Regions from separate parts of the Homo sapiens genome. Here region 2 is linked to region 1. A link means that fine-mapping ties the variant in region 1 to the expression of a gene that starts in the linked region. Tissue or cell type: cerebellum. Region 1 holds a variant in brackets; the other region holds the start of a gene. All regions are shown on one strand. Distances are from middle to middle. Region 1 overlaps ARHGAP39 (Rho GTPase activating protein 39). Region 2 holds the start of GPT (glutamic--pyruvic transaminase).

The links. PIP is the estimated chance that this variant, and not a neighbour inherited with it, causes the effect.
Region 2: it holds the start of GPT, and the variant in region 1 is the best candidate, but not a certain one, in a credible set for the expression of GPT in cerebellum (GTEx, PIP 0.59).

What each region holds. Positions count from the first base shown.
Region 1 is chr8:144,665,145-144,668,043 of GRCh38, reverse strand. All of the region lies in intron 1 of ARHGAP39 (Rho GTPase activating protein 39), which reads left to right. Among named protein-coding and RNA genes, the nearest start is that of ARHGAP39, 19 kb to the left of the region's middle. The variant C/T (reference allele first, on the strand shown) is at 1,407.
Region 2 is chr8:144,502,666-144,505,564 of GRCh38, reverse strand. GPT (glutamic--pyruvic transaminase) reads right to left here and starts at 1,425. Exons shown (of 11, transcript NM_005309.3): 1 at 1,099-1,425; 2 at 872-961; 3 at 686-794; 4 at 434-567; 5 at 76-319. The coding sequence starts at 1,260. It overlaps LOC101928953 (a long non-coding RNA gene), which reads left to right and starts at 91. Exons shown (of 5, transcript XR_007061149.1): 1 at 91-193. RefSeq lists an enhancer at 1,117-1,777 and a silencer at 2,405-2,699.

The DNA.
Region 1 (2,899 bases):
GAATGGAGGTTAAAAAAAAAAAAGGCTGTGAACACAATTCCATGAAGCACATACTGGCATTTTCAGCTCGCCCAATGGTTTGAACATTGCTTTGTCAGAAGAAGCCGTCACTCTCCATAAAGTCTAGGAAAAATGTTTTGAAGATAAATGTTGCCCATTTTCATTGCTGTTGGCATTGTTACTGTAATCTGATGCTTATGCTCTGAACACATTCTGTGTTTTTATATAATTTATACCTCAGAACAATGCATGCAGTGGGTGCTCTTGGTCCTGTTTCATAGATGAGGAAACCAAGGTTGGAGAGGGCTGTGACCCACCAGGGTCACACAACTAGTAGGCGGAGCCAGGATTCAAGTCCAGGTGCCATGACTCCTGAACTTTCCCTCTTACCACAGTCACACTTCTTCTCCTGTCCTGTCATCTCCGTGACCTTAGGGTGTAAACAGTTTGTTTATTGAGACTTAGTGTACACAGAAGATGTCCCAGGTGCCGGGACATCCCAGGGAGGAGGACAGGCCAAGCCCCTGCTCTCTTGGAGCTTATGTTCTCCCAGGGCAGGGAAAAGCAGACACGTGACATGTGACATCTGCAGTAGTTGGTAGGTGTCAGTGCTGCAGAGACAGGATGAGGGAGGGCCTGGAGATTGGGAAGGGGGTGGGGTCAGGTGGGCCTCAGTCACAAAGACACTTCATTTGGGCAGGTGAAGGAAGTAAACCACTTGTGGGGGAAGGAGTGCAGGCAGAGGGAATGCCCAGTGCAGAGGCTGGAGGGAGGGTCAGAGTGAGCCTGCAGTGCTGGAGGGCAGCCTGTGAGGTGGGAGCAGGAGGGCATCCAGGCTGCCTGGGGACAGGCAATGGGGGTGCGGGTGGGCTTGGAGCATCAGGGTGCTGCATCTGCCTTGTCTCTTTCTTTTTCACTTTGGGGATAAATTTTAATAGAATGTGAGTCTGAACTCTTATATTTAGAATAAACAAAACATTAAAATTGATTGGTTCGAAATGGTTTTATGGAAAAATTAATCTGTAGCAGAAACTTGGCCTTGCGTGCAAAGGTTCTACCATTTTTTGAGCAAAGTTTACAAAGGTTCAAAGGGACAGGACCAAGGAGGAGGGGCTTGGACATTTCCCACAGCAGGCATTTTATCTTCCTCTTTTTCACGGGAGGTGGGCAGAGGCCTGTTTGGGTCGCTTTGAACACTGTATTGGGGCTTTGCTGTGAGAACTGGAGCACTCCGGGTGTTGTCCAGCACTGATCGCCTTTAGCCATGTGTATTAGTCCATTTTCAAGCTGCTGATAAAGACATACCCAAGACTGGGGAGAAAAAGAAGTTTAATTGGACTTACCGTTCCACATGGCTGGGGAGCCCTCAGAATCATAGCGGGAGGTGAAGGTCACATCTTACATGG[C/T]GGCAGCAAGAGAAAATGAGAAAGAAGCAAAGGCAGAAGCCCCCCATAAACCCATTAGATCTCGTGAGACTTATTCACTATCACGAGAATAGCACAGGAAAGACCAGATCCCATGATTCGAGTACCTCCCCCTGGGTCCCTCCTACAACACATGGGAATTCTGGGAGATACAATTCACATTGAGATTTAGGTGGGGACACAGCCAAACCATATCATTCCACCCCTGGCCCCTCCAAAACTCATGTCCTCACATTTCAAAACCAATCATGCCTTCCCAACAGCCCCCCAAAGTCTTAGCTCATTTCAGCATTAACCCAGAAGTCCACAGTCCAAAGTCTCATTTGAGACAAGGGAAGTCTTTTCTGCCTGTGAGCCTGTAAAATCAAAAGCAAGCGAGTTAATTCCAAGATACAATGGGGGTACAGGTTTTAGGTAAATACAGCAGTTCCAAATGGGAGAAATTGGCCAAAAGAAAGGGGTTACAGGCCCCTTGCAAGTTCAAAATCCAGCAGGGCAGTCAAATTTTAAAGCTCAAAGTGATCTCCTTTGACCCCAGGTTTCACATCCAGGTCATGCTGATTCAAAAGGTGGGTTCCCATGGTTGGACAGCTCCACCTCTGTGGCTTTGCAGGGTATAGCCTCCCTCCTGGCTGCTTTCACAGGCTGACGTTTAGTGTCTGCAGCTTTTCCAGGCACACGGTGCAAGCTGTTGGTGGATCTACCATTCTGGGGTCAGGAGGATGGTGGCCCTCTTCTCACAGATCCACTAGGCCATGCCCCAGTAGGGACTCCAACCCCACATTTCCCTTCTGCACTGCCCTAGCAGAGGTTTTCCATGAGGGCTCCATCCCTGCAGCAAACTTCTGCCTGGGCATCCAGGCGTTTCCATACATCTTCTGAAATCTAGGTGGAGGTTCCCAAACCTCAATTCTTGACTTCTGTGCACCTGTAGGCTCAACACCACATGGGAGCTGCCAAGGCCTGGAGCTTCCACCCTCTGAAGCCGCAGCCTGAGCTTTATGTTGGTCTCTTTCAGCCACGATTGGAGAGGCTGGGACAGAGGGCACCAAGTCCCTAGGCTGCACATAGCACAGGGACCCTGGGCCTGGCCCACAAAACTACTTTTTCCTCCTGGGCCTCTGCACCTATGGTGGCAGGGGCTGCCATGAAGGTCTCTGACATGGCCTGGCGACATTTTCCCCGTGGTCTTGGGGATTGACATTCAGCTCCTTGCTACTTATGCAAATTTGTGCTGCTGGCTTGAATTTCTCCTCAGAAAATGGGTTTTTCTTTTCTACTGCATCATCAGGCTGCAAATTTTCTGAACTTCTATGCTCTGTTTCCCTTTTAAAGTGGAATGCTTTTAACAGCACCCAAGTCACCTTTTGAACACTTTGCTGCTTAGAGATTTCTTCTGCCAGATACCCTAAGTCGTCTCTCTCAAGTTCAAAGTTCCACAGATCTCTAGGGCAGGGGCAAAATGCTGCCAGTCT
Region 2 (2,899 bases), 160 kb after region 1:
GGGGGGAGTGGGGCGGGGCGGCGGGGAACGCAACGTGGGCGCGGGGGGAGTGGGGCGGGGCGGCGGGGAACGCACCGGTGGGGTTGCCAGGGTTGATGACACAGAGCGCACGAGGGCGGCAGTGGTCACGCGCCTGGCCCAGTGCACGGTGAAGCTCGGCCACGTCCAGCGCCCAGGCACGCTCCTCGTCCAGGTAGTAATCCACCTGCACTGCGCCCAGCTCTGCCAGCGTGGCCGAGTAGAGTGGGTACTGGGGGATGGGGATGAGCACACCCGTGCGTGTGTGGCCCTCGCCGGCCACCAGCAGCTTCAGCACCGTCTGCGGAAAGGAAGGGGAAGGCAGGGTTGGCGAGGCCTGGGGCCGCACCTGTCCCCCACCCTGGGCGCCCCCTCTGCAGTGTCAGGAATGTCTTGGTGCCCATGCCCAGCCTACCACGATGGCATCGCTGGCCCCTGTGGACAGGAAGACGTTGTTGGGGTCCGCAGGGATGCCTCCGTCACGCCTCTCAATGTACCGCGCCACGTCCTCCCGGATCAGCTGGATGCCGGAGCTGACGCTGTAGGCCCCTGGACTCGGGCAGGACAGGATGGGAAGTACAGGTGAAGTTCTCCTCAGCCCTCCCAAGGGACTTCCCTCCTCCAGTGGCAGGGCGGCCCTCTGCTTCCTCCTGGCCCTGGCTCTCACCCAGACTGTGGCCCCCACACGCCTGCAAGATGCGCTCCGCCCTTTTCTTGGCATCGTCAGGGAAGTTGGGGCTGCTCAGAAGATCAGGGTTAACACAGAGGGCCAAGACCTGGGAAGACGGAGTGCTGAGGCCAGGGCACATGGGCTGGGGGTGGGGGGGTGCTCCGGGCAGTGCAGGAGCCTCACCTGGCGCAGGAAGGTGATGGGCCTCTGCCCCATAGCCTGTGCGTCCCCGATGTTGGCACGGATGACCTCGGTGAAAGGCTTCTTCACACCCTGGGAGGGGAGGGGAGCAGGCAGGGAGACTGTGCCCTACCTAACCCCTCAGCCCTTGTCCCATGTGCCAGTGGGGCTGGGGCCAACTCGGCCACCCCATTGTGACCTGGAGGGCAGCGAGGGGCCCTGGGCCATACCTGGCGCAGCTCCTGCTCCAGCTCCAAGGCTCGCTGCACTATGGGGCCACGCACTGCGTACTCCACTCTCCGCACACGCGGGTTCATGCCGTCCAGCGTCAGCACCTTCGCCCTCAGTCCATGCCTCACCGCCTGGCTCCGGTCACCTGTGCTCGAGGCCATGACTCTACCCAGACCAGGCGGGAAGGCAGCTCAGGAGGTGGCAGGACCAGAAGTGGGAATGGCGACAGCTGGGTCTGGCTTAGTGGGCCAGGGCTGGGAGGGGGCAGCCGTAGCAGAGGGAACTCCAGGCAAGAGAGCACCCTCTTCACCGCAGCTGGCCTCACTGGGAGGGACAGAAAGGGCTGAAGGAGCTGGGGACAGTTGGGCCCCGCCCCACCCGTCTGGGAACAGCTCTGCCCCAGGGAGGCAGAGGCAGTGGGTGAGGTGGCAGGCGGGGCTTGGGGCAAGGCCCAGTGCCTGCCTAGTGTCCCCACGAAGGGAGAGCAGGAGACCCACATGGGGGGTAGGTACAGACGTCAGTCCGGACAGCTCTGAGGGACTAGACATGGGGGGAGGGGGAGAGGGCTGAGCACCTGGGGTGCTCAGGAGGTGAAGGGGTGCCCAGCAGCCCTGAGGGGCTGGCAGAGCTGGCAAGGAGGGACCCCCGAGGCGAGACTGGAGCCTGGGCTGCTGGGATTTACCCCAGCAGGGCTTGGCCGAGGCCTGGCCCTCGTGGCACCCGCATCTTTGCTTGGGCCAGCGGACCTGTCTCCTATTAACTGAGCCAGGCCTCAGGAATCCAGGGGGTGCTGGGGGGAGGGGAGGGGTGTTCAGGCTCTGGGTTCCATCTGGACCCTCCAGAGCTGGCAGCTATGGCCCAGAGGCTGCAAGAGCTCTGTAGCTGGACCTTGGTCCCTGATGAGCACTGCGAGGGGCTGGGGGAGGGGGCTGGAGCCAGGCAGTCCAGCCCTGAGCCCTGGGACAGCTCACACCGTGGCTGCTGTCATGCCCTTTCACCAGGCACCAGCTGGGGGTTGCCCTTGGGACACACCCGAGGCTAGGGGTGACCTGAGCTCTCCAGCCCTCTTGTTCCCGATTGGAGGAGAGAGTAGGAAACGAGCTGGGATAGGCCGTCAGAGCCCCACCTCCACAGGCCTGCTGAGCTGAAAGGCCAGGCTCCACGCTGGCCCACCCCAGCGTCGGGCACCGAAACCTGAACCATGGGGGTCAGGGAGCCGGCCCTCTGAGCAGGGCTGTGGGCAACCAGCCAGGCCCAAGTCGGACCTTGGCTCCTCTGATCCTGCTGGCTGGGAGAAAAGCCATCGGGAGCCCTGGACAGCCGGCCCCCAGGCCTCTCACCGTGCACGTCTCTGTTCCGCTGCCACAACAGCCTCCCCGTGCGCAGGCCTGCCCCTCTGGCCCCCAGGCCGGGGCACAGGTTAACATGGGCCTGGCCCCAGGCAGAGCCAGCCCCTGCCCGCCCCCTGGCAAGGGAGTCCAAGTGGCAGCCCTGGTGGCAGGTGGACCTTGGGCAGCTGCCCCACCCCCCACACTAAATTTAACCAGCAGCCAGCCCTGGCCCGCCCACAGCCCTGTGAGGACACCCTTCCAACCAGGGATGCTAGGGGAAGGGCAGGCCCAAAGGACACTGGGCTGACGGGCCCGTGCTGAGCCAGGAGGGAGAACAGCCCAAACCCACACCACCCAGCACTGGTGGCCACACAAAGCCGCCCACCATGAACAGACGAACCAGCGGTGCCCTCAGCCCTCCTGCTTGAGGCCCCTAAGGGGCCCCCTCACCCTGACACATTGTGCCAAG